Homo sapiens: one gene and its partners. The protein of the gene in region 1 interacts with the protein of each later gene in a pairwise test. Each region holds a gene or a part of one and is shown on either strand. Other genes may lie near its edges.

Region 1 (7,442 bases):
TCCATCTCTCAAGTGTGAGATCCACCATCTGAGTGTGTGACCCCTGCTCAGTGCGCCCCATATAGGCACTATGCCAGGACATAAAATTACCTCCTATTGCAGTATGTTCAGTTTCCCGAAGTCTCAGTTACCTTGCTTAGGACATTTACACTAGATTCCACTGCTGGTAATACCCCCACCTTCTTTTTTATCCCCTTTTCACCTGTCTTTAGGTCTTAAGGAGTATCTCATTACCTTCGTTATATGATAGCTGCTGTTGGATTCTAAAATTCTGTGGGCAGGGATTGGGGTTTTTTTGTTGTTTGTTTGTTTTTTGTTTTCTTAGCTTATCCGGTACTAGCCAGGAGCCCTCCAAAGTACAGCTGCTCAATTAATATTTGGACAATTGAAGTGTAAGTGACCAGGAAGTCAAATGTATTGCTATTTAATTTCCCCCACATTCCTGAAAAAGCTAAGCAGATCCGGGTACATATACTTCAGTTTTACAAAGAAAGACTAAAAAGAATAAAACAAAGCAAGAATTGACCACATTTTACTTTTTTTTTCTCTACTTCCTGGTCCCACCAACTTTATTGCAAGGTAATTTCCTTTTCACAAATTCCATATTCCAATGCCATATTATCTTGTTCTAGATCACAGAAAAAGACTTAAAAGATTTTTAAATTGTTTTACATAATGCAAAAATTCTCACTCTCCAACCTGATATATTTTAATAAATGAGTGATTCATGCCATTCATAAACTTAGATTCTGAAACTAAATAAATCTACAATTTAAAAAAAGAACACTGAAAAACAGGAAAAAGAAAAGATAAATCATTTTACATACAAATATGTTATACATGGTGTTCCCACCAACTCCCCTTTGGCTCTCCATTAATTAGAAGGTTAAGTGTTTTCTTAATCAAAAGTAAAGAATATACCTCAGACTTCACAAGGAGTGGGAGACACTGCTGGACACCACACTGAAACATGCCAGGCCCAGTTGCAACACTGTCTCTGGCTCTCTCTCCCTCATCTCTTAAAGTCTTCTCTTAATGGAGGGAAGACAATGGAGACACTGTCATTGACCTTGGCCCAGGCCTCCACATTCTTGAATAATCTAAGCAAACCAGGTATGTAACTTTTAAATTTATGAGCAAAAAAAGACTGAACTGAGTAAGACAAACCACGAATAAAGCAACTTTTACTTTTCTTCCCTTTCTATCTTCAGATTCTACCTATTTTACTGTGGAGTTATTTTAAATTTCTAAGGATAACCTTACTCCCATGCCGTGTTATTTTGCTCTGTATCACAAAAATTATTTCAGGATTTTCTATTTGTATTTCAAAAACAAAATTATTATCACTAAACCAACCTGATAAACAGCAATAAATGTGTGATGCATGCCATTTCTAAATTTATATTCTGAATCTAAATAAACTTTCTATTTTAAGAAACATCATGGAAAATACAACAAAGAGATAAATCAATGAGTTATTCATGCATCACAGGAACAGAGAAAGCAGCAGGTCTTTCAACCACAAAGTGAACAATTTGCCTTAGATCTCACATGGGTTGGGAAGAGCTACTGGATGTGGCCCTGGAATACGCACTAGTCATGGCTGTAGTGCCACGCCTGGCTGCAACTCTGGGCCGGGCTCCAGCTCTCTCTTCTTCATCTCTCAAAGCCTCTTCATAAAGCAGTGGGAAGTTATTGGGGGTGGTGTCATTCACCTTGGCCAAAAACTCCAGGACTTTCATCTTGCTGGTTTCTGCATGAGCTCTTGGACCCCACAGGAATTGATAGCGTGGGGGATCACTGTTGGGCACCTGCTGGTATTCCAGATATTTTTCCTGTACCAGATCTTGGGTGATGAGCTTTCGGGGTTCCCCAAAGATAAGGTGCCTCTTTCCATCATAGATCCCCAGCATATTCAGGAATTCCCAGATTTCCTCTTCACGGGCACAGTTGCCATTTAAGAAGATCACACTCAGTAGAGGCATCAGAAGCCCATTCCTTGGAAGGGTCCAGGCACTGCTCTGGTTTCCATCGTTGGGGCCTAGCATGCTGACGAGGATGTAGGAGTGAGTGGTGGGGTTGACCTCCTTCAAGGCAAGGCCAAAGACCAGCTCCGTGCGCTGAGAGACTTTCCTGAAGATCTCAGGGAAGTGCTCCTTGTACTTTTTGCTGATGATCTTCAGCATTTCTGCCTTTGTAGTGGGCTCTTTCATTTTATACTTGTACAGCAGGAACTGCACTAACATCTTCGTCTTCCTGGTTAGAGAATCTTTGAGTGATCTCTCAGTGGATGTTGAGGCCTGGGAGGAACTTGCATTTTCCTCATCTTGGCTCTCGTCGCCTTTATCAGATCCAGTGCATGACATAGCTGCAGCAGCAGAGGTGGTGGGTGGCTCTCTCTGAGGCTCCTGGGGAATGCCAAAAGCAAGGGAGCTGGAGGCAGTATCCCTCAAAACAGATGAGGAAGAGGAAGGAGACTCTTCTTTCTCTGCTGCAGTAGGCTGACCAACCTTGAGATCCTGGGTCTGACCACGGGTCCGCTGGCGTTTCTCACGGGCACGGAGCTTACTCTTCTGACCCCGAGGCATGATGGCTGTGGTTAGGCACAGCAGGCAGGAGTGTAGGCAGAAGGGCAGGTGATGTGGTTCCTGGAGAAGAGCAAATGAAATCCTGAGAACACCTTCAGCAGGCAGATACTACCTTGGCTTTTCAGAAGCCGCCTCTGCAGGATTCCTTGAGAACACTGCTCTAAGTATTCACTGGGCTATTGTTCTTAGTCATTCTGTCCCCTGAGAAGCCAGCTGAGGAAGTTACAATGTGCCTTAGGCTGCAGCTTGCCAACCCTGCCTGGGGCTGACTGGGTGACAACAAGGCTCGCAGTGGGGCTTTCTGTGTTCTGGCTTGGAGAGGATCCACTCTGATTACCTTTAGAATTGTCATGTCAGCTCTTGGCAGGGCCTGAGCCTCCCTCTATTGGTGTTGTGAAATTGACTCTTTAGTTTTCTGGGACCCAGATGAGGGAAGTCTAGGGGCCCCTCAACCCACCACCCCTGCCTAGAAGCATTTAGTGCTCTCTCTGTCCTGGGCTCTTTAGGTCCCAAGTTTGCACTCAGGATCCTCATCTGGACTCCAAGCAGGGTTGTGGACTGTCTCTTCTGCTGACTGATAACTGCAACTTCAGACCAAGAATTTCATCTTTTCTAGTTCTGGTATAAAATGTGATGGGCATCTATGAAAGAAAATAATTGATAATCTGGACTTCGCTAAATTAAAACTTCTGCTCTGCTAAAGATACCACAAAGAGAATAAGATAACTCCCAGGTTGGGAAAAAATTATTTTCAAAAGACATATCTGATAAGGGACTGTTAACCAAAACATACAAAAATGTCTTAAAACTGAACAATAAGAACTGACCAACCCTATTAAAAATGGACAAAAGATCTAAACAGGCACCTCAACAAATAATATATATGGAAGGCAAATACGTACATGAAATGATGGTCAACATCACATATCATTAGAGACTTGCAAATTAAAACAATAATGTGATACCACTACATACCTATAAGAATGGTCAAAATCAAAAACCCTGATAACCCCAAATACTGATGAGGATGTGGAGCAACAGGAGCACACTGTCATTGCTGATGGACATGAAAAATGATACAGCCACTTTTGAAGACAGTTTGTAAGTTTCTTACAAAGCTATGCATACTTTCATCATATGATCTAGCAAGTGCGCTCCTTGTTATTTAGCCAGATGAGTTGAAAACGGTATGTCCACAAAAAAAACCTGCACACAAATGTTTATAGTAGCTTTATTCATAATTGCCCAAACTGGGAAGCAAGCAATATGTCCTTCAGAAGGAGAGTGGATAAATTAACAGAATAAAATATTATTCAGCACTAAAAGGGAATGAACTATCAAGCCACAAAGAGACATGGATGAAACTTAGATACATATTACAAAGTGAAAGAAGCCAATTTGAAAAGTCTATACATTGCATAATTCCATCTATATGACATTCTGGAAAAGGCAAAAGTATGGAAACAGTACAAAGTTCAGTGGTTTCCAAAGGTTGGGGAGAGTGAGAGATAAATAGATCAGGCACAGAGAACTTTTAAGGCAGTAAAACAATTCTGGATGATTCTATGGTGGTAAACATATGTCATTATACATTTTTAAATATTAAAACCACAGAATGTGCAGCAACAGGAATGAATCCTAAACTACGGACATTGGGTGATAATGATGTGTCCATGTATTCTCAATTGTAACAAATGTATCACCCTGGCTTGGGAGGTTGATATGAAGGAGGCTGTGTCTGTGGGAGGACAGGATGCCTGTGAGACTCTCCTTTCTGCTCAGTTTTGCTGTGAACGTAAAACTATTCTAAAAAAGAAGGTCAATTATTAAAAAAAAAAAGTGATGGTGAGTCCTCAGCCTTACATGTTGCCCTGGCAATTTAAGAGTTATGCAGGGGGGTGGACTCTGTTGCTCTCTCTATTCAGAGGTGAGCAGTCCCCTCAGTTCTCACTCGGTTTCCTTGATTTGGCTCCTAGCAGATCCTAGGGCTCCCCTCTTTTTTGACCTGAAGACCTCTCCATTTAAAAGGCCTGCACCTCCCTGAGATCAGATAGGAGGAAGAGGGTGGCCTTATCTGGCCACAGCTGACCATGGTCTCCCAAGAGTGGCAGCTGTGGTAGACAGGTTGAGGTCTTATGGTGGATTGTCCTACTCAGGTCCTAACTCAGGATCCTAAATCTCACTCACAGGAAGGCTTAATATTCCTCCCTTTGCTGAGCTGGGATTGCCCACCTCAGAACAAGACCTTCACTTCTCTGTTACTACTGAGGATATGAGGGTGCCTCTTTCTGACATTCATGCCTAAATCTCTCAGAGGTGACAATAGGGAGGATTCTGTGGGATCCCCACTGATAGGGGTTTGGTGGTTCCTGCACTCTTCAGGGTACTCACTTTACTCCTGGCACACATTAGGAATCCTTCCTCTATGGACCTGAGTCAGCCAGCCTCAGATCATGGTCTTTACCTTCTTAAGACCTCCGGAGTAGAAATCAGGTTCAGCCACATCCTGTTAAGGCTATTTGGGTGAGTGCTTCCCTCATTCTTCATTCAGGGTCCTCAACTTGGTATGTGTCAGAGAATGGCACTCCTCCCTCTACTGACCCGAGATGCAGGAACTCACAAGTCCCTGAGAACCTTGAAGAATAAGTGAGGAGATGCTCAGGCTAAGAACTCTGTCTGGCATGTTGTTCTGCTGAGTCCTCCTATATGAAGGTCTTTATCTTGGCTCTTGTCCCTTAGTTAATGACTTCCTGGGAAATGCCGCATCCCTAAAAATTCTTGATCAGTTTCCCTATAATAAATCTTGCAGACAATGCATCCCTGTCCCAGGAGTGATATAAGATAGGGAAGCTGTAACACAAGGCAGAAGCCCGAGGATAGAAGTCATACTGTCAGAGAAAAAAAAAAAAAAAAAAAAAACATTGATCTATTTCTTCTCTTTACTACCCTCTTATGTATTTCTCTTGGAAAAGATTTAACTTCCTATAAAAAGGGGGACAGTCCAGAATGACAGAATGTGACCCCATGATCTTTTGAGTTTATCTGACTTTGCATGTGTAATCTTATTGTCACCAAATATTATCTTTCTCTCCTTAATTCACACCTCTTGACCATTTTGGTAATTTCCTTGCTCTGGTTCTGTATTTCAGTCCAGCAGATTGGGTACAGAATCTTTTCATCACTTGATATACGTTTGGGAGTAGTGAGAAGAAAAGTGAATAAGGGGACACAGTCAGTCTCAGGTTGGGAGGCATGGAACAGAGTGTGCTTTACACTAATTCAGACTGGGGGTCTTGTCCCAGTCCTGTCACTTACCAGCCATGTGAAATTGGACATATTAATAGACTGTGGGCTTCAGGCTTTTTATCTGTGAAGTGGGTTTGATAAGCTCTGTTTTGTAGGACTGGTAAAATGTATACAATGTATGTAAAGTGCTTGAGATGTATTGAGACATATAATAGTGCCAGTTCTTATTATGATTAATTTGTACCCTGACGTTGCAATCTACTACACTGGGACTTATTTTTCAATGCAGGAGATGTCAGAGATTATACCATATTCTAAGACAAAGAAAGCCCTATCAGACAAAGTGCTACCTAGAAAGGAAAACTAAATAATATTTCCTCATTACTTGATAGATCATTCAATATTAGTATGAGGTAGACTTCCTCAGTAGATGCAACACAGATTCTAAAATGAGTTTCAAGGACCAAAAACTTCCCTCTCTCTCAGCTATCCTTCCATCTAAACCACTTTTATTTTGATTCATTTAACCACCTCTCAAAATCTAGACCTTGCCTAGAGTTTGCCAAATCACAAATGAGGTAACCTAATTGAATGCGCTTTTAATGGAACAGGCTCTGGATCCCCCAGCCCAGGGCAAAGAGTACCAGCACAGTGGCTTCTGGGCCTCCCCCGTCCCTTGAGGGTATTACCCTTATTTCTCAGAAACTGGCTGGAGATGATGTGCACAAAACACCTAGTGTGTGCTGTGTTTATTTGTACTGGGACAAGAGCACAGGACACATTCCTACCCCAGATTCTCCCTGATTTATCCATGATCCCAAAGTAACTGTTAAGAACTGTTTCCTATTCCAAGCTTTGTCTCGCACCTCTGAGAGGCAACTTCTTTTTTTTTTTCTTTTGAGACGGAATCCCGCTCTTTAGCCCAGGCCGGACTGCAGTGGCACAATCTCGGCTCACTGCAAGCTCTGCCTCCCAGGTTCACGCCATTCTCCTGCCTCAGCCTCCCGAGTAGCTGGGACTACAGGCGCCCGCCACTGCGTGAGAGGCAACTTCTAAGAGCCTGGCCCCTGCTCGCCATTCCCACAGCCTCATCCAGCCCACCATGGAGCCTCACTTAGATTAACTCCCATTGAGGGACCTGCACTTTCCTTAGGCCCAACACCGCCTTGATTAGATAATTCATACTTGACTGTTCTCATGTGGAACCACCTCCCTCCCTTCTTATCATGTATCCTTTTGGTCTTAGAGTGTATATCACCATTTTCCTTAGATGATAGCTGCTTCTCGACCTTATAATTTTAAGGTCAGTTGCTAGGTCTTCTTTTTCTTAGCCCTCCCAGTATTAGCATGGATCCTTCCAAGAGCAGATGCTCAATTAACACTTGGAGAATGAGTGTGTCAGCATGAGGTCTAATTTATTATGATTTAATTCTACATTCTTAAGTAAGCCAGACATATATGGTTATTTATCTTTCATTTTCTTAAAGCACAGAGTAAAAGCATTTAGGAAACCAAATATTGACCATCTTACACTCTTTCTCTATTTCTTAATGCCATACATTTTACTGCTGACTTTTTTTTTTTAAACATTTTCAAGGAAATGCTTAT
Region 2 (7,923 bases), on another chromosome or scaffold:
ATACAACATGAATTTCATGTTAAGTTTTAGGTATTGTTCTCCTAAACATCACCATGAATTTTTCTGGCCACTTGGACAAGAATAGGTATAATTAGAATCTGTTATTAATATTGATTTTGCATCAACAAAAGCCAATGGCTTCATTTCAACATCTATTTGAAAAAATTCCCCAATACACCTACTCCTCCAGTCTCCTATTGAAACTGAAATCAAAGTTTCTGTTCTGTAGCAAGAGGTAAGGAAACCAAGCCCTATCAACTGCCTCCACTGAGTTGACTAGAACTCTTCCATCATATTCAAGATGGAAGTTAGCTCCCAAACTTTCACTCTGTTTTATAATTGGGAGAAAACAGTTAGCTTGACACTCCTATTCAATCACATACATTTTCAGATTCATGAACCTTCTGTATTGCGAATACAATTTTTCCCACCAAAACCAAATGGCAGAGCTCTGAGGATAATATGCAGTGTCTATCAGAGAGAAGTGAAAGCAGTGAAAGCCAAGACTCCTGAAATATAAAGAAAAATGTTTATCTGACTTTTTTCACCTAAATATTTTCAATGCATCAAAAAGGTTAACAGGAAAAAAATAGAAACATCTAGTTTTAAATTTGAGTGTTGAAAATATGTGTACTGTGATCACACATACTGATCACAACAAAAGTTGTGATCAAAGAAACCAAGGGTTGTCTCCAGAACAGGTGCCTAAATCTAATGTTGCTTTCAGCCTGTTAAGGAACCATCTCACAGGTGTACTGAAAGAAGCATGGAACCAAGACTGTTTCATCATTCACTCATTAAAGGAGCACAGAAAAATTATTGTAATTATTGTAATTTTTGTACCCTTAGGGCAAAATGAAAATAAGATTGTCTTTGCTACATCATTTAGAAGTTTTCATGAAAAATAAGGAGATAATGCAAGCACAAGTACTTTGTAAAATTGTTATGCCAATGTGAGGGTTGGCAATTGTTTTACAGAAGCTGTTTGAGAAAGTCTGTAGCACTATCTCACAAAGCATCATGATATACCATCTTAAGGTTGCCTCAATTCCTAGGAAAGAAATTAGCTCACAAATTACATAGGAAATAGGCTCGAACATGACAAAAATCAATGAATACTGGCTCAAGGGGCAGAATCTGGCCCTTCCCTACACATACACATAAACACATTCTGGTCTTATAAAGTCCATTTTTAGCCATTTGGTATTTGGATTTTCTTTTATACCTACACAATATAACAGAATTTTCCTCGTTCTATAGGGTCTTTCAGTGAAATTTCAAGTTTGGCCAATTCTCTTTAATTCAAAATATTTCTCATATTTTTAAAAATTTTAAATCTGTTCTAGCAAAGTGTTTGCTTAGGCAATGATTGTTACTACTGAATATTTTTACTACTAGGGCCAAAGTCGTTAAGCATTACTACTATGTGAAGCTATCCTGGAATTCTTTCTACACTTTTACAAATTTTTTATTTATTGTGGAGATATTTCAACTAATTAATAGGTAAGGGGAACTCACATGTGGATTTGTGGTAGTTAGATGGTGTCTTTCCTCTTAAAAGCTGGTGATAATCTCTTTACCTCCTGATCCGATGACTAAATACAACAGAAAGGGGGCTGTCCAGCCCAGTTTCTAGGAAATCTAAGAACTAAATAGACTAAATTCTTTTCCCAGAGTTGCACAGTCTTGGCACTAAAAAGACAGAATCCAAATCAGGATGTTCACAAGTTGTACTGCTTGGAAAAAGCCAGTAGTTTGCTCTATGCTCTTCTTTTCTACTCTACTATTTTCCCCTTTATTAATATATGTGCACATGTATGTACATGCATGCACATACACACACATTTTGTCCAGCAAAGCCATGTAATACTTCAGGTGCCATTGCCTCAGATCTTAATAGTTAACAGAAGTTATTCAGTCCCTTATTTTTCCCTGCATGTTCTTCAGCATTTCACCTCTGCTTCCTCTGTCAAAAAAATGGGGGTGGGTATTTTACATTTAATTAGTATTTTCTGAGTATACTTTTTTTGCGGGCAAATGATGAGTGTGAAGCAGAGAAAGGAAAAATATACTTGGACAATCTTTTTCTTCTAATTTCCCATCTGAAAGAGCTGAGGAAAAGGAAATTTCCCCCACCCTGTGCCAACTATTCAAGCATTTTTAGTAAACAAAATAGTTAATGGTGAGAATCTACCCCGAGGATTTTCCACAATCTTCTCTGATTCCTCATTCTGTTTTCCTTTCCCTGCCTCCCCCTCCGTCCTTGCATAGCCCTAAAATGCTGTGAGCAGAGTGGTGGATTGGGTCAATTCTTCCAACCTACTTGCTGGGCCACCTTGGAAAAGCAGTTAAACTTTTCGACATTTTCACCACTAACAAAATGAAAGAGTGGCTTTGACAGGAATTGGGGGAGATCATCTGTATTCTTCACTTTATTAAAATGATTGTGAGTGTCTATGTGTTTCACTTTGGGTGGCAAGTGCTATAAAATTTAATAAAATTATTTAAAATGTTTATATTTGTCCCTAAGTGTTCCAACTCACTAGCTTCTACATTCCAAGTTTCCTAAATCTCACTTCCTCCTGCCTTACCCAGAAGAGACTTTCCTCACCCCAACTGCTCCTCTAGGTGAGTGGGAACTTCCCACAGAAACTTTAGCCCCCTTACCACCCCAACCACTGGCTCACCTCGGTCACTGGCCGTTCCTGGAGTGAACTCTGTGAATCTGCGTCTTAGAGGACAGTCAGAGAAGCCAAGTCTCCCTGACCATCCAGATGGTAGAAGAGACGCTTTCAGCGATCCATGTCAAACCCGGTTGTTACCTCTTAGAGATTCCACCGGGTCTGGTTTCTCTGCCTGCTCCTTATTCTACTCCTTCCTTGGAGTTCCGTATGCTCCTCAAGGACGCCTTCGGGCTGATCTCTCCGCTGCAGCCAGTTTAGTCGCTCTTCAGTACCTCCTCTCCCTGGTTAGCTCCCCGGAGAGGAGCTTTCAGGACCACAAGCCTCTGGGCAGCTCCTGCTCTCTGGCCGGAGCCTCTGACTTGCTGCAGTTTTGATTGCTCTCCCAGCTGACCAGGGAGGAGTGATGTTGCCCAGAGTCTAACTCCTCCCTTTTCCCCAGCCGAAAGACACGCCCACTTGAAAGGCTCCTCCGGCCAGGTCCAGTTTTGCCGCCCGTTTGTTTGTTTAAATAGAGATGGGGGTTGGTGGAAGGGGAGCAGGGGAGGAGAGTTGCTGAAGTTAAGGAGTAAAGAAAAAGAGGACTGGAAACCTTTGTGATTAAAAAGATAAGAAATGGGAGCGGAGTAGTGTGGACAGAATGGAGAAAGAAAATTGGGGATAGACTTGGAGAGAGAGCTAAAAAGGGCAGATGACGCTGCTGACCCACGTCTGAAAAGAATCAAAAGGTGAGAAAGATGCGTGTCAAGGACACAGCATCAGTGGCTGCTTCCTTACACATGTGGACTGGGGTCTTTGGCTTATAAACTTCAGCGTTCTAAAAGTAGAAGGAAGAAGTATGTCTCTCCCACCTTTTCAGCACGTCAAAGCTACTCTCATTAAAACTTTTAATTTGTGAATTTAGGTGAAGCTATATTTGTTGTGCTATTCTTTCAACTTTCTGATCACTTTAAATTTATAAAAACAAAAAGGAAATTAATAAAATCCTTCATTTTAAGGGCAGTTAGTTCCTTGAGTTACAAACTGAGATCTACTATTGTTTTTCAAAAATACATCATTAAGCATTCACGTAGAAAAAGTCCACCTGAGTAGTAATAAGCTTAGAAGAAGAGAAGGCTCATAATAATTCCTAAAACTCCTTTGGTATTAGGAGGTTGAATTAAATTGCTAGAAGACAGAAAGAAAACTACATCTGGAATAATTTAAGTATATAGATATTCATACTATCTTATTTAAAACTACACCAAGGAAAAATAAATGATTGTGAACTTAAGATACCAAAGATTTTCTAATCATCTTGTGTTTCCAAGAAGGAAAAAGAAAGGTGCTCAGATTAAGCAATTGGCTGAATGATCTTGAATAAGTCAACTTCACTCTGGGCATCAGTTTTCATATCTGTAAAATGAGTTTTTCCATCAGTAGCCTGATAGAGTTACGAATCCAAGTTCAACTTCTTTTAGAAATTGACTTGAAGGATAATTCCTCAGGCGTTTTGGCAAAAGGCAAAACATTTATACAATCTGAAAAGAAACCAGAGTATCCCCAGCTTTTTGAGAATCGCGTGGTCTAACAACATAACTAGCACATGCGTCAAACAGAAATGAAAAACTATTAATATGCCTGTGTGCAAGGAAAACTGTAGAGGGCTGAAACAAAAGATAGTTTCACTGCTCATAAAGTTGAAAAGAGTATCTTAAGTTTGAAAATAGTTATTTTTAATTCTGATATGTGTCATATGACTCTTGTTTTTCACAGAAAACAAGAAAATAAAAATTAACACTTTTTTCAGTTTTCATGGGAAGTTATTTATTTTCAGCAGCTCTTTAATCTCTTACTTATCTTTATTTGTATCCCTATCCAGAAAAATATCTGCTCAGGAAAATAAACTTCATTTTCAGAATAATTAAACAACACATGATGGGAATAGCAGATCTCTAAAAAACAAATCAGAATTCACTCCTCGGCCACAGGAAATTTATCTATGAGGTAATTTATGTCTAGGATAGAGGTGCTTAATCATTGTTCAATGAGCGCTTACTGAATGAATTGATCTCCTGCTTTGTGTCTTCAAAGCCCTGTCCATGGATATTTAGAAGTTGATGGCACTGATGCCTGTGAAATTTTCAGGGGCAGGGAGTAATAGCAGATTAGCAGAAAGGTGAACATATTGAGACAAAGATGAGGGTGGGGATAAAACATTCTGCAGGATTCCTTGCTTTCTCTGACAGATGTAAGGGACTGGACACAATAGGATTAGCCTTCAAAATACATTCGTGTGTGTGTGTGTATGTGAGTGCACACACACACATACACAAGCGTACATGAACGTGCACACCCCTGAAGAATGGGGAGGGAGTTGTGAATGCCAAATTTTCTTTAAGAGCTGCTTTTTGCAGAGGGATGGGTTGAATCTATTTCATCAGGGTCACCCTCGTCACAACTCATTGACAGTTGTACAGTTGGCTGTTCAACTTTGAGAGGGCAGGAAGGGGCAGGAGGGGTGTGTGCTGTCAGCAAAGGAAAAGGGGTGGTGACTGCCCTAGGAAAGGAGAATACAAGGCATTTGCATGCATTCTCCTCCCCCCACATGGTTCCTGGGCCAGAGGGCCAATCCCCAGCCCTTCCTTCTTTCTCTGCTGCTTTTTATAAAGCTCTGAGCTAACCTGTAAGAACCATCTGCTGAGTGGGGAAAAGGAGACCAGTACTCAGTTGCTGGCCCACAGGCCTAACGCCCGGGAGCCATTGAAGCAGAGAGAGGGGAGGCAACAGGCAGATTTATGAGCAGCAATCTGTTCCCCCCCTCCCCCAAGGACCCTTTGCCAGGAGACAGCCTGATAATCCATCAACCCCACTAATGAATTAATTAGTATTCCCAGTAATCCTGACCCCCAAAGGAGACCTGCCTGTGGGCCCCTAAGCGGGGTAGAAACTGCCTTCTTCAGTCAGACACTGAAGACCTGAAACCAATGTCTGACATTAGGCCCCAGGGTGCTAAGCCTCAAGCCACGGATCCTGTTGCTGATGGTCCCCAGATGTCTCTCCTTCTCACCTTCCCATCGGAGATCACTAGCTTCTGCTGAATTAAAATCAAATGCGACCAACAAATGGAGTCCAGGGACATATATCAGGAACTGTAGCGAGCAAGAAGGTGGACTTCCAAGGAAGAAATGATTCGGGCTGCCCATCTTCAGGTTAGACTTGAGCAGAACCTAAAGTTGCTCTCCAAGTTTTAGGCACTGGGGCCTGGGATGGGGTTGGGATGGGGTGAGGGCTGGGGGAGAAGGTAAATAAAACATAGTCCTTGACCTCGAGAAGTTCAGCGTTCCAGTAGGGAAATAATACAGGTTCAAAAATAATTGTGAAACAGGTTAAAACAAAAAGTGATTTGTGACATGAACCTCTCCTGCATAACGACTAGAGAAAAACACAGAGGTGTCAGTTGGGTTTATGAATAGTTTGGAGAATAGCATCAGGGAGATTCAATAACCTTCCCTTACAGTAGCAAAGTGAAGTGCTTCATTCTTTTCAAAAACTCCGTAGTGAAGTGGGGTCGGGGAAAAGCTTAGGACTAAGGAATCCTGGGCTCTAAATCTTAGTCTGCCTCTGTGTGGCTGTGATGAGTTATCTAACCTCTCTGGCCTCACATTCCTCATTAGGCAATGATCAGCTTGGGTTATGATCTCTCAGAATCCTTCCAGCTCTGATACTCAATGATATAACATAGTTAAGTGTCACAATTCTTTTTTGAGGGTGAATAATACTGGCCCATTCAAAGGTATGGAGACAGAGTCCCCAGGTTTGAATAAAGCAATATATTAGGTTAATGGCAAAAGTGGGTCTAGAAACCAGGTAATAAATTTGGGTGTCCTCTTTCCATCTAGATTACTGGTCCCTGTTGAGAAGAACACTTGATTCAACCTTCTCACACCACATTCATTCAAGAGCTATACATATGGGCATTCACAGGGTATACAGAGTGGCTCATTCATTATGTAGTTTTTAGCTACACAAAACTGCCTGAATTTGTTCAGATCTGCTGGGGAAACTTCTCTACCTTTAAAAGCTCTGTACCATCCTCCAGCGTCCATTTCTGCACTTGCCATATCTAATTCCTAAGAGCAAGGTCCTCTAGGATTCAATGGAATCCTTGAATCATAACATTGACATTTATTAACCACGTGACTTCAGACAAGTTATTTATCTCACTGGGCCTCAGTTCTTCTACCTGTAAGCTGGAGGTAATACTGCTTATTCAATGAACTTGCTCTGATAAATATGTATGAAATAATACATGCAAAGTACCTAGTATACAGTCTGGCACTTAGCAAGTGCTCAATAAATGATAGTTATTATTGGTATTTTATCTTAAACATTTAAATCAAATTTGTATGTCTTAGAAATCAAAGAAAAGCTATTATCAGGATCTCCTTAAAAAGGCCCTGTTTTTGTGCTCCTATCTCAATCCAAGTATTCCTTTATTATAATAATGACCACACTATTAATTTACCCCACAAATGCATTTTATGCCTATATAAAGTCCCAGGCACCGTGCAAGATTCTGGGACTACAGAGCGCTGTAAGACTTCTCATTCCTAACCAACTTTCAGTGTAGTGGAAGAGGCAGTAAACTAAATATACAAATATACCTAAAACCTCTTCTCTGTGTCTGACTTTCTAACATAATGTGCCCAGGGAGCTATTATGTATCAGAGATATTAATTGCAGCATTGTTTTTAATAATGAAAAAGTTTATTATCAATACATTAAGTGACCAGTGGTTTAGCCAAAGTAAGATATGCCATTTATCTATACTAACAAAAATATACCACATATACTAACATGCTTAGGGGGAAATATAAAACCATTATAGAACTATAGGTTCAATATGATATACTTATTTTTTTAATGTATACACATGCATCAAATAATACATATAATTTACAGATACACATATACACACACACGAACTGAGAACAGTGGGTCTTTATCTCAGGAAATCTCAGAACTGGCATGAAATACATTGAGATCAGGTAGTTATTGAGGGAAATTGTTTTTTTTTTTACACAAGTATAATCTATTCATATGTAACTTGTGAATGCGAAATTGATTTTAAAACATAATTAAAATATGCTATCTTTAAAATCCTATTCCCCACTCATAGCCAAATTTATTTTCAGGAAAGGATCTGATAGCCACCCCCTACATCACCAATCACTGGAATATATATATAAGCTGATATGAC
Region 3 (7,000 bases), on another chromosome or scaffold:
ATCTCTCCTGCACTAGCTGTCAGCTCCAGGAAACAGGCTATATATATCATTGGCCACAGCATACCCAGCACTGGCTAACTGTTAATCCCCCAGTACAGTAAGTACCCGTGGAGGGAACGAGTGAAGTATATACAACATCCTGAGGAGACGTCATTAACTCTAGGGACAGACAAGATGAGGATTCAAAGGGGAAATGATAGCCCAGCTGGGTTTTGAAAGATGAAAAAGAGTCCTCCACTGAACAGGGAAAAGTTGAAAGCTTTTCATCTAAAATGTGGGATAAAACAAAGATGCCCACTTTTACCACTTATATCCAACGTAATACCGGAAGTCCTAGCCAGAGCAATTAGGCAAGAGAGAGAAATAAAAGGCATCCAAATTGGAAAGAAGGAAGTTAAATTGTCCCTGTTTGCAGATGTCATAATCCTATATATAGAAAACCCTAAAGCCTCCACTAAAAAACTGGTAGGAATAATAAATTCAGTAAAGTTGCAGGATACAAAATCAACATACAAAAGTCAGTAGTCTTTCTATATACTAATAGCAAACTATCTAAAAAAGAAATCTGGAAAACAATCCCATTGACAATAGCTACGAAAAATAAAATAAAATAAAATACCTGAGAATAAATTTAACCAAGGAGGTAAAAACCAGGAGTGGTGGCTCATGCCTGTAATTCCAGCTACTCAGGAGGCTGAGGTGGGAGGATTGCTTGAGCCCAATAGTTTGAAACCAGCCTGGGCAACATAGCAAGACTCTATCTCTTAAAATGTTTTTTTCAGTGCACACAAGGGTAGATAAATAATTTAATTTTTTTCTTTTTTTTTTTTTTTTTTGAGATGGAATCTTTCTCTGTCACTCAGGCTGGAGTGCAGTGGCATGATCTCGGCTCACTGCAACCTCCGCCTCCCGGGTTCAAGCAATTCTCCTGCCTCAGCCTCCTCAGTAGCTGGGATTACAGGTGCGCACCACCATACCTGACTAATTTTTGTATTTTTAGTAGAGATGGGATTTCACCATGTTGACCAGGCTGGTCTCGAACTCCTGACCTTGTGATCTGCCTGCCTTGGCCTCCCAAAGTGCTGGGATTACAAGCGTGAGCCACCATGCCTGGCCTAAGTATAAAAATTTTTTTTAATTTTTTTAAATAAAAAATCTGCCAGGTGTGGTGGCACATGCCTGTAGTCTCAGCTACTTGGGAGGCTGAGGCAGGAGTATCATTTGAGCCCAGGAATTCATAGCCACAGTGAGCTATGATCAGACCACTGCGCTCCAACCTGGGCAACAGAGGGAAACACTGTCTCTTAAAAAATAAATAAAGGAGATGAAAGATCTCTACAGTGAAGACCAGATGCGATGGCTCACGTCTGTAATCCCAGCATTTTGGGAGGCCAAGGTGGGCGGATCACCCAAGGTCAGGAGTTCGAGACGAGCCTTGCCAACAATGGTGAAGCCCTGTCTCTACTAAAAATACAAAAATTAGCCAGGCATGGTGGCACACACCTGTAATCCCAGCTACTCGGGGGACTGAGGGAGAAGAATCACTTGAACCCAGGAGGCAGAGGTTGCAGTGAGCCAAGATCATGCCACTGCACTCCAGCCTGGGCTACACAGTGAGACTCTGTCTCAAAAAAAAAAAACTCTACAATGAAAACTATAAATCATTAATGAAAGAAATTGAAGAAGATATAAATGAAAAGATCCCATGTTCATGGATCAGAAGAATTATGGTGACAATGTCCATACTACTCAAAGTGATCTACAGATTCAATGCAATCCCTATCAAAGTGCCAATGACATTCTTCACAGAAACAGAAAAAACAAGCCTAAAATTCATATGGAACCACAAAAGACCCCAAATAGCCAAAGCAATCTTGAGCAAAAAGAACAGAGCCAAAGGCATCATACTGTACTACCTGATTTCGAAATATACTACAAAGCTACATTAACCAAAACAGTATGGTAGTGGTATAAAAACAGACAGACATATAGACCAATGGAACAGAATAGAGAGCTCCAAAATAAATCTACACATTTACAGCCAACTGATTTTCAACAAAGGTGCCAGAACACACATTGGGGAAGGGACAGTCTATTCAACAATTGATGTTGGGAAAACTGGAAACCCACATGTAGAAAAATGAAATCAATCCCTTATCTCTCACTGTATAAAAAAATCAGGCCAGGTGCAGTGGCTCACACCTGTAATCTCAGCACTTTGGGAGACTGAGGCGGGTGGATCACCTGAGGTCAGGAGTTCGAGACTAAGCTGGCCAACATGGTGAAATCCCATCTCAACTAAAAATACAAAAGTTAGTTAGGCGTGGTGGCATGTGCCTGTCATCCCAGCTACTTGGGAGGCTGAGGCAGCAGGAGAATCACTTGAACCTGGGAGGCGGAGGTTGCAGTGAGCCGAGATCATGCCACTGCACTCCAACCTAGGCGACAGAGTGAGACTCCATCTCAAAAAAAAATAAAAAATAAAAAATAAAAATGAGTTAAAGACTTAAATGTACGACCCCCAAACTACAAAATTACTAGAAGAAAACATAAGGGAAACACTTCATGACGTTGTGCTAGGTAAGAATTTTTTGGATAGGGTCTCAAAAGCACAGGCAACAAAAGCAAAAATAGATGTGATTTCTTTATACCAAAACACTTCTGCACAGCAAAGGAACCAATCAACAGAGTTAAGAGACAACCTACAGAATGGGAGAAAATATTTACAAACTATATATCTGACAAGGGGTTAACATCCAAAATATACAAAGAAGTAAAACAACTCAATAGAAAAAAAAATTAAAATGGGCAAAAGACCTGAATAGGCATTTCTCAAAGGAAGCTATACAAATGTCCACCAGGTATATGAAAAAAATGCTCAACATCACTAATCATCATGGAAATGCAAATCAAAACCACAATGAAATAGCATCTCATACCTGTCAGAATAGCTACTATCAAAAAACCAGAGCCAGACGTGGTGGCTCACGCCTGTAATCCCAGCACTTTGGGAGGCCAAGGCAGGTGGATCATGAGGTTATGAGTTCGAGACCAGGCTGACCAACATGGTGAAACCCCATCTTTACTGAAAATACAAAAAATTAGCCAGGCATGGTGTCGCAATGTCTGTAATCCCAGCTATTTGGGAGGCTGAGGCAGGAGAATCACTTGAACCCGGGAGGCGGAGGTTGCAGTGAGCCAAGGTCGTGCCACTACACTCCAGCCTGGGCGACAGAGTGAGACTCCGTCTCAAAACAAACAAACAAACAAACAAAACCAGAAGACAATATGTGTTGGCAAGGATTTGGGGAAAAGGCAACCTTTTGACACTGTTCATGGGAATGTAAATTGGTACAGCCATTATGGAAAACAGTATGGAGGTTCCTCAAAAAATTAAAAATAGAATTACCATATGATCCAGCAGTCCCACTACTGGGTATATAGCCAAAGGAAATGAAATCAGTATATTGAAGAGATACCTCTACTCCCGTGTTTATTGCAGCACTCTTCACAATAGCCAAGACATGGAACCAACTAAGTGTCCACCAGTGGATGAATGGATTTTTTTAATGTGGTATAAAGCTGGGTGTGGTGGCTCAAACCTGCAATCCCAACAGCCAAGGGGAGAGGATAGTTTGAGGCCAGGAGTTCAAGACCAGCCTGGTCAACATAGAGAGAACCCATCTCTACAAAAACTTAAAAAAAAAATTAGCTGGGCACAGTGGTGCATACCTCTAATTCCCAGCTACTCAGGTGGCTGAGGCAGGAGGCTTGCTTGAGCCCAGGAGCTCGAGGCTGCAGTAAGCCATAATTGCACCACTGTATTCCAGCCTGGGTGACAAAGCAGGACTCCATCTCAAAAAAAAAAAAAAAAAATATATATATATATATATACACACACACACACACACACACACACACACACACACACACACACTATGGAATACTATTCAGCCATAAAAATAAAATAAAATCCTGCCATTTGCAACTACATGGATGAACCTGGAGTATGTTATGGTGGAGTTTTTTTTTTTGTTTTCTTTTGTTTTTGTTTTTGTGTGTGACAGGGTCTGGCTCTGTTGCCCAGGCTGAAATGCAATAACTTCAGCTCACAGCAACCTTCACCTCCCAGGCTCAAGCCATCCTCCCACCTCAGCCTCCCAACTAGCTGGGACTAGAGGCGCGTGCTACCACACCTGGCAATTTTTGTGGTTTTTGTAGAGATCGGGTTTTGCCATGTTGCCCAGGCTGGCCTCGAAGTCCTGAGCTCAAGCGATCCGCCCATCTCAGCCTCCCGAAGTACTGGGATTATGGGCACGAGCCACCTCCCCCAGAGTATGTTATATTAAGTGAAATAAGGGCCAGGCACAGAAAGACAAATACTACATGACCTCACTCAGACATCAATCTTAAAAAGTTGATTTCATGGAAATAGAGTATAATGCTGCTTATCAGAGGCAGGGGTTGTTGGGGGGATGGAGAGATCTTAGTCAGAGGATGCATAATTACACTTAGGAGGAATAAATTTCAAGAGATCTATTATACAGTAAGGTGATATGGTTAATGACAATATATTGTATTCTTGAAAAATGCAGAGTAGATGTTCTGCACTATCACCAAAAAAATGAAAACTATGTGAGGTAATGTATCTGTTAATTAGATTTAGTCATAACATAATGTATACGTACTTCAAAACATCATTTGTACATGATAAAAACATAGAATATTACCTGTCCATTTTTTTTTTTTAATGTTTTTTTGAGACAGAGTCTTGTTCGGTCACCCAGGCTGGAGTGCAGTGGCGCGATCTCGGCTCACTGCAACCTCCACCTCCCAGGTTCAACTGGGCACATCCAGCTTATTTTTGTATTTTTAATAGAGACACAGTTTCTCCATGTTGGTCAGGCTGGTCTCAAACTCCTGACCTCAAGTAATCCACCGACCTCGGCCTCCCAAAGTGTTGGGATTATAGGTATGAGCCACCATGCCTGGCCCATTAAAAAAAAATTTTTTAATGAGGTAATCATTCCCTTATGCTATGCATATTAAAATAAAATTTTGGAGAGCAAAAAAAGAGTCCTCCAGATAAATTAAGAACACTGGCCGGGCATGGTGGTTCACGCCTGTAATCCCAGCACTTTGGGAGGCCTAGGCGGGTGGCTCACCTGAGGTCGGAAGTTCGAGACCAGCCTGACCAACATGGAGAAACCCCATCTCTACTAAAAATGCAAAATTAGCCAGGCATGGTGGCACATGCCTGTAATCCCAGCTACTTGGGAGGCTGAGGCAGGAGAATCGCTTGAACCTGGGAGGCAGAGGTTGCGGTGAGCCAAAATAGCACCACTGCACTCCAGCCTGGGCAACAAGAGCGAAACTCCGTCTCAAAAAAAAAAAAAACAAAACAAAAACAAACAACAACAACAACAACAACACTAAGAGTGGGCCGGGCATGGTGGCTCATGCCTGTAATCCCAGCATTTTGGGAGGCCAAGGCAGGCAGAACACCTGAGGTCAGGAGTTCAAGACCAGCCTGGCCAACATGGTGAAACCCCGTCTCTACTAAAAATAGAAAAAATTAGCCGATGGCACGCACCTGTAGTCCCAGCTACTCAGGAGGCCGAGAAATGAGAATCGCTTGAACCAGAGAGGTGGAGGTTGCAGTTAGCTGAGATGGCACCACTGTACTCCAGCACTCCAGCCTGGGAGACAGAGTGAGACTCTGCCTCAAAAACAAACAAACAAAAAAAACACTAAGAGTGTCTGCCCATGGCTGAGGCTGGGGGTTCACATATGGCTCCTGAACAGGCTGATGCTACATGTTCAAGTCTCACCTCTTCCTCCAGGAAGCCTTCTAGGACCACCTCAGCCTGCTTCTGAGCACCTGTGGTCACTCATTCATTCAGCAGTTTTGGGACTCCTCGTATATGATAGGCCCATCATTTTATGTCTAAGGTCTCCCCACCTCCAACACAGAGTAGGGTCCTCAAGAGAGACGGGACCCTGCCTCTCACTGTCAGGATCAACTTCATGGTGGCAGACAAACCCTTCACAAACATTCAGAGCCCCAGGATGTCCAGGCTGGTGGGGACCTCAGGGATCACCCAGCACCCTAAGGCCTAGAGAGAGGAACCCCTGGCCAAAGGTCACACCGTGAACCGTGGGGTGAACATCCAACTGTTGTGCCTGAACCTCCCCACACTCTGGGTTAGACCCCTTATGAAGCTGAGAGGTTGTGGGGAGCCCTCCAGCTGTCCTCAGGTTCAAGGTAAAACAGTAGGATTGCATTGTGTGGTTGGAGGCTAATACAAAAATTAGCTGGGTGTGGTGGTGGGCACCTGTAATCCCAGCTACTCCGGAGGCTGAGGCAGGAGAATTCCTTGAATCCAGGAGGCAGAGGCTGCAGTGAGCCAAGATTACACCACCGCACTCCTGGGTGACAGAATGAGACTCCATCTCAAAACAAAAACAAAAACAAAAACAAAAACAAAAACAAAACAAAACAAAAACAAAAACAAAACAAAAACAGCCAGCCCCATCACCATTTCTGGAGTAAAAAAAGCTTCTGAGCCCCACTGAGAGCTGACCTGGGCCAGGCTAGACCTGAGGCTGGGCAGAGGTTCCCAGGCTTCCCAGGACCCTTGCCCACCTCCTACGAGGGCACCAGTGGGTCCCTGCTAGCCCAGAAATGTGAGACTCAGTGCCCAGTGTAGACTGACATCTTGGAAAGGGAAAGAAGAGCTCTCCACGGGGAGAGGCAAGGATTGAAGCGGGACAGGGAGACCTTTCCCGCACCACCACACTGCACTCAGCAGTTCTCCCAGCCCCGAGCGTGGCAGCAGGCTGACCACTTCATTCAGTCGCCCACTCACTTGCTGGGTACCCAGGGGCGAGTAGGGACCAGAGCCCTTGAACTCCAATGCTGACTCTGTCTACAGTGCCACAGGACACTGAAAATGGCCCCCAACCATGCAAAGTGGGGCTTGTGGATTATCTGAGACCC
Region 4 (5,762 bases), 7.7 Mb from region 1:
AATCCAGCAGGCCATCATTTCTTTTTTGCATTTTTCATGATGGTTTCTCCTTCACTCTTCAATCTCCATGTAAAGCCCCTGTCCCATGAACTTCATGCCAGCCAGTGTGCCCCTCTCCACCCACCCCTGTGGCCACCGCCCTCTGACTTCAGACCTTTGCTATCCTGAATAAAGCCTCCTGCACCTCAGTCAGAGTCTGCAGCTCCACCTCAGGCCCCAGCATCAGGCTGGGAATTCAACAAGCCTCAGAGGCCCCCAGCCAACTCCCTGGCCTCACAAGGCCTTCCTGTTCAGAGACAATGAGGAAGTCTCGGTGTCTTTATCCCAGCCAGTTCCTCCCCACAGGGCCGGCGCCCTCACTGTCACCATTGGAAACTGCCCCCTCTAAATCACTGATTCAAACACCACACTGGCCACCCCTTCCCCGCCTTCAGCTCTCTGGGGATAGCTTCCCCTGGATGTCTTACAGACACCTACAACCCAAAGCGACAGAAACTGAGAGGAGTCAGAAACATACTCATGGATTTACATCCTTTAATAGCACTTGTTGATGACAACAGCAGATATTCCTCAGCTGTGACACATTTTTGCCCTGGCTAAGCCTGTGAGGTTCCCTTCAAGGCTCTGGGACCCAGTCTTCAGTCATTCTTCCTGGATTTGGGCATCTCATCAAACAAAAAGCGAGTCACATCACTCTCAGCGCTGTGGGGCTCACGGTTGTTGTCCACTTCTCTCTCCCTATCTTGTGAAGTGTTGCGCATACTGCCATTGTTGCTGGCCTCCAAGCCTACCCGCTCCATGATGTAGTCAGCAAGGCAATCGAGCAAGGTAAGGAGGGTATTTATTGTGGAGGAACTCTGGCTTTGGACGTCTCGTTCATCTTGCACAACGCGGTCCACGAAGCTCCTAGGGACCTGTAGCTCATTTCTAGAAGGGTCTTGAGTCTGGTTGTTATTTGTAGACGAGTTCTTACAGTTCTTTTTCTCTGACATGATGTTTGCTGGGTTTGGCTCTCATCAGCTCTGCTTGATTCTCTAGCTCAAGTAGGTCTCTGAGGACACTAGTGCTTAGTCCTGCCTATTGTATCCCTCTGCTCCAGGCCCTTATTGGTCAGGGAGCTAGCTGCCTTTGTGACATCCCTAGACTTTGTGATTTCATTGGTGTCCACTGGTCCCTTATCAGACCTCAGCCTAGAAATGTCTATGACACTGATCTAGTCACGCTAATGACTGAACCTTGATTTTGAGGGAACTATAACTCTCTACCTGATTTTGACATTATAAAAATAAATGTGTGCTTCAGTGGAAAACTTTGCTCTGTCTTTAGGACACCACTGCAGGTTATCTGATTCCAGCCTTACATTATCTGTGAAGTCTTTTATAGCCTTTTGTTAGTTGTAGGCTGCTGATACATGTACAGCATATTCTTTAGTAGAGGTTCGGTTGTTCTTCACCTTATGAAACCAGTTTTGCCTCCATTTACACAATCATTTAATATTACTGATGAATATTCCCATATCAACTCTTTGGTTTCCCTTTTGAAGCAGTCATAACATCTTTTTCTTTTAGCATGTGTTCATTTCATATCTGTATGAGTGTCATGATTTTACCCCATTTGAAAAATATATTTTAGTCATTTTTCAATTAATAATAAGATGCTCAGCCGGGCGCAGTGGCTCACTCCTGTAATCCCAGCACTGTGGGAGGCAGAGGTGGGTGGATCACAAGGTCAGGAGATCGAGACCACAGTTAAACCCCGTCTCTACTAAAAATAAAAATAAAAATAAAAATAATTAGCCGGGCGTGGTGGCGGGCGCCTGTAGTCCCAGCTACTTGGGAGGCTGAGGCCAGAGAATGGTGTGAACCCGGGAAGTGGAGTTTGCAGTGAGCCGAGATCGTGCCACCACACTCCAGCCTGGGAGACAGAGCGGGACTCGGTCTCAAAAATAATAATAATAATAAGATGTTCAATAAGTTTACCTGTCAGTGCCAGGTAAACAGTTGATAGAGAAGTGCATCTTGTGCTCAGTTTAAGCCCAGATGTGTATTTCTTGTCCCTCCTAGGTGAAGCCAAAGCACTAAGAGATGTTTCTTTTCTATTATTTAATTTTCTTCTCTACTAATTCTGTGTTTTCCCTTTGACTTTGGTTCATTTACAGCCAATAACTTTGCCATTCCACAAGGGAAAAAGTGGAAAGAAAAAGGAGTCTCAAATCCAAGCATTTTCAAAATCCAACCATTAGGTTTCAAGGCCTGAGAATATTCTAAGGCTTGAGACTCCTCCCTTTGATGACTCTGATCCTATGACTTCACCTGGGGTCATAAATCTGCCCTCTGGCCTCTAGGTTCTGCCCTCAGTCATTGTTCCTTTATTTTGAATGGTAGCATATGTTTACAGCTGAGTAGTTTTATCAGCCTGCTTCCTCCTGTCAAATTTTGAGAGTCCTGTAGACTTCTTTCATTTCTTCCTCTATTTGTCCCTTTCAGTCTAAGCTGGCATTGTTTCTGCTGATATAACATTGTCAAAAACTTACAGGCCTTTTATGTATGTCATGGGGATTCATGCCATTAGACAAGAGGCTTCTTCAAGATCCCTCATAGAAAATCCCATCTCTATTCCTTGCTTATTCTGAGAAGCACACCCCATATCTCTTCAAAACACCATCTATGTGATTGAATACTTTGATCTTTTGATCCCTTAAAGGCACTAACAAAAGGATGTCTAGCCACGCCCTTGATTTTATCTCTGGAGGATGATTTTGTGGCAATGAATTTCCTAATTTTGGTGTCTTTTGCAATCTGGATAGGCTGAAAATTTCTCATATCATTGAATTCTGGTTTCTTTTTGCTTAACAGTTCTTCCCTCAATTTATGTCTTTCCTCTGGCATTTTACTATAAACAGCAATAAAAAACAGGCCATTCCTTTAATCCTTTGCATGAAAATCTGCTCAGCTAAATATTCAAGTTCATTGCTTACAAGTCCTGCTTTCCACATAATTGTAGAGCACAATTCAGGTAGGATTTCTGATGCTATATAACACAAACTCCCTTTTCTGATATTATGTTACTAATTTCTTTCTAAGCATTCACCAGCAACACCTTTGACATTTTATTTCTATCAATAGTTTGTTTATGATAATTTAGGTGTTCTCTAAGACAATATAGACTTTCTCTACTGTGTTCCTCATGTCTGAGCTCTCACCAGGAACACTTTGAACATTCATATTTCTATTAATGATCTGTTCAACATAATCTAAGGTTGTTATATAATGCTCCTGAAAATTATTCCAGTCTATAGCTATTATCCAGTTGCAAAGCCACTTCCACATTTTTAGATATTTCTTATAGCAGCAACCCACTTCCAGGGACCAAACATTGTGATAGATCCCTATGGCTGCTCTAATGAATTGCCATAAATTTGGTAGCTTTAAAATACACGCATTTAGTATCTTACAAACCTGGAGGTCAGAAGTTCAAAATCAGTTTCACTAGGCTGAAAATAAGGTGTCAACATTGCCATACTCCCTCTGGGGACTCTAGAGGAGGGTCTGTTTCCTTGACTTTCCCAGCTCCTAGAGCTGCATTCCTTATCTCATGGGCCCCTTCCTTCCTATTTACAGCCAGCAGCATAGCATTTTTCTTCAGTAGTCACATTTCCTTCTTCTGTGTCAAATTCGCCTCTGCCTCACTCTTTTATGAACTTGTGTGATTGACCTTAGGTTCTATCAGATAATACAGAATAATCTCCCATCTTCCACAATCATCTTTGTGAATTCTCTTTTTCCATATAAGGCAACATTCATAAGTGCAAGGGGTTAGGATCTAAGTATCTTTGGGGACCATTACTCGGCCTATCACAGGAGTTATTCCCAGGAAACTCTGGCAGGGAAGAGAGGAATTGAGACAGAGAAGGAAAGGAAGCAAACAAAGTATTCGTTATCAAGCAGCTAATGTCACTGTAAAACTTTAGAGAACGCTGTAGTAAACACATCTTCCAGGGGCAGATGATGTCCCACTGTTCTGGACTGTCATATTATTGAGCACAGTGGGCTCTGATGACCTAATGAAAGGTCTCACACAAAGAAATAAGGGTTCTGACATTTGAAAGTCAGGCAAATATCTACTTAAATGGTATGAGCTGTTGGAGTATGGACAGGGCACTGACAGCATCTTCTATACCCAGAAATGTTTGTATACCCTCCTAATAAAGCCTTTCCTTTTCTTCTTACCTCATGCCTGCTGTTTCATCCTTTCATGTAGCTACCTGGCATCAGACACTGAGGTTGATGCTGGATATTCAATGTTAAGCAAACTAGGCATTATCTATCTCATCCTTATGAAACATCCAGTCTAGTAGGAAAGACAGATGTTAAAACAAACACCCAAACAAATATGTATTTCAAATTTATTGTGCATGATCAAAAGCAGAGTTTATAAACTTTAGCACTATTGACATTTTGGACTGAATAATTCTTTGTTTTGTGGCATAAAGGCTGTTCCTGGTAAAAAAGGACAGCAGTACCTTGGCCCCTATCCACTAGATAGTAGCATCTTCCAGTTGTGATGTCAAAAAGTAGCCAGAGGACAAAATTATTCTCAATTGATAATCACTTATTCACATTTAAAATGTTATTTTAAATGTTATTTTAAGGATGTAATTTACATAGGGTTATGGAGGAATGTTGAAATGACACTGAACCTTAGAACTGTCACAAGAATAAGGAATGAGTCAGAGAAGTGGTAAGATAAATAACATTCCATGGACAAATCCCCAGACTAGTAAAGTATTTGGCATGTTTTAAATGAAAGCTAGTAAGTATGCTGAACCTGAGTGCAAAAAATGAGAGTGTAAATGATGAGTTAATGGGTGCAGCACACCAACATGGCGCATGTATACATATGTAACAAACCTGCATGTTGTGCACATGTACCCTAGAACTTAAAGTATAATAATAAAAAAAGATTTAAAACTCTTATGAGTTATAATAGTAATAGAAACCTGCTTACTGCTCCCTTGTTTGCTACCTGTACTTCTTCAAATGATAAAAAGCTTCATCACTACCTTAGTTCACCAAAATGCTTCAGCACAAGTGTACTATATGAATCACTATTGATCTGTCTTGCAAGAAGACATGGGTAGTGAGAATAAAAGTGAGAACTTCCACTATTGAATGAGGTTCTCAAAGCGGGGGAATAAGGGAGGAGACCACCCCTCATATTGTCTTATGCCCAATTTCTGCCTCCAAAGAAAGAAGAAGTAAAAACTAAAAGGCAGAAATGAAATCCACAAGCAGACAGCCCGGTGCCACACCCTGGGCCTGGTAGTTAAAGATCGACCCCTGACCTAATCGGTTATGTTATCTAAAGATTACAGACATTGCATAGAAAAGCACTGTGAAAATCCCTGTCCTGTTCTGTTCTGTTCTAATTACCGGTACATGCAGCCCCAAGTCACATACCCCGTGCTTGGTCAGTCAATCACGACCCTCTCATGTGGACCCCCTTAGAGTCATGAGCCCTTAAAAGGGACAGGAATTTCTCACTCGGGGAGCTCAGTTGTTGGAGACGTGAGTCTTGCCGAAGCTCCTGGCTGAATAAAGCCCTTCCTTCTTTAAAAAAAAAAAATAGTGTCCTTTGAAACACAAAAGTTTTTATTTTGATAAAAATAAAGTGCGATTTATCTATTCTTTTCATTTGATGCCTGTGTTTTTTCACATATAAGAATCGATTGCCCAAAAAGAGGTCATGAAGATTTTTTTCCT

Evidence for each region.
Region 2: the proteins of MAGEB4 (region 1) and NEUROD4 interact in binary tests that used the Homo sapiens proteins (3 or more experiments, as listed by UniProt).
Region 3: the proteins of MAGEB4 (region 1) and ACOT11 interact in binary tests that used the Homo sapiens proteins (3 or more experiments, as listed by UniProt).
Region 4: the proteins of MAGEB4 (region 1) and H2AP interact in binary tests that used the Homo sapiens proteins (3 or more experiments, as listed by UniProt).

What each region holds. Positions count from the first base shown.
Region 1 is NC_000023.11:30,237,282-30,244,723, reverse strand, and holds MAGEB4 (melanoma-associated antigen B4), read right to left. Parts: upstream 2,725-7,442; 5' UTR 2,589-2,724; coding exon 1,548-2,588; 3' UTR 537-1,547; downstream 1-536.
Region 2 is NC_000012.12:55,015,078-55,023,000, reverse strand, and holds the start of NEUROD4 (neurogenic differentiation factor 4), read right to left. Parts: upstream 3,028-7,923; 5' UTR 2,688-3,027; intron 1-2,687. UniProt on the Homo sapiens protein: Probably acts as a transcriptional activator. Mediates neuronal differentiation. Required for the regulation of amacrine cell fate specification in the retina.
Region 3 is NC_000001.11:54,551,228-54,558,227, reverse strand, and holds part of ACOT11 (acyl-coenzyme A thioesterase 11), read right to left. Parts: intron 1-7,000. UniProt on the Homo sapiens protein: Has an acyl-CoA thioesterase activity with a preference for the long chain fatty acyl-CoA thioesters hexadecanoyl-CoA/palmitoyl-CoA and tetradecanoyl-CoA/myristoyl-CoA which are the main substrates in the mitochondrial beta-oxidation pathway.
Region 4 is NC_000023.11:37,986,070-37,991,831, reverse strand, and holds H2AP (huntingtin-interacting protein M), read right to left. Parts: upstream 1,054-5,762; 5' UTR 993-1,053; coding exon 639-992; 3' UTR 518-638; downstream 1-517.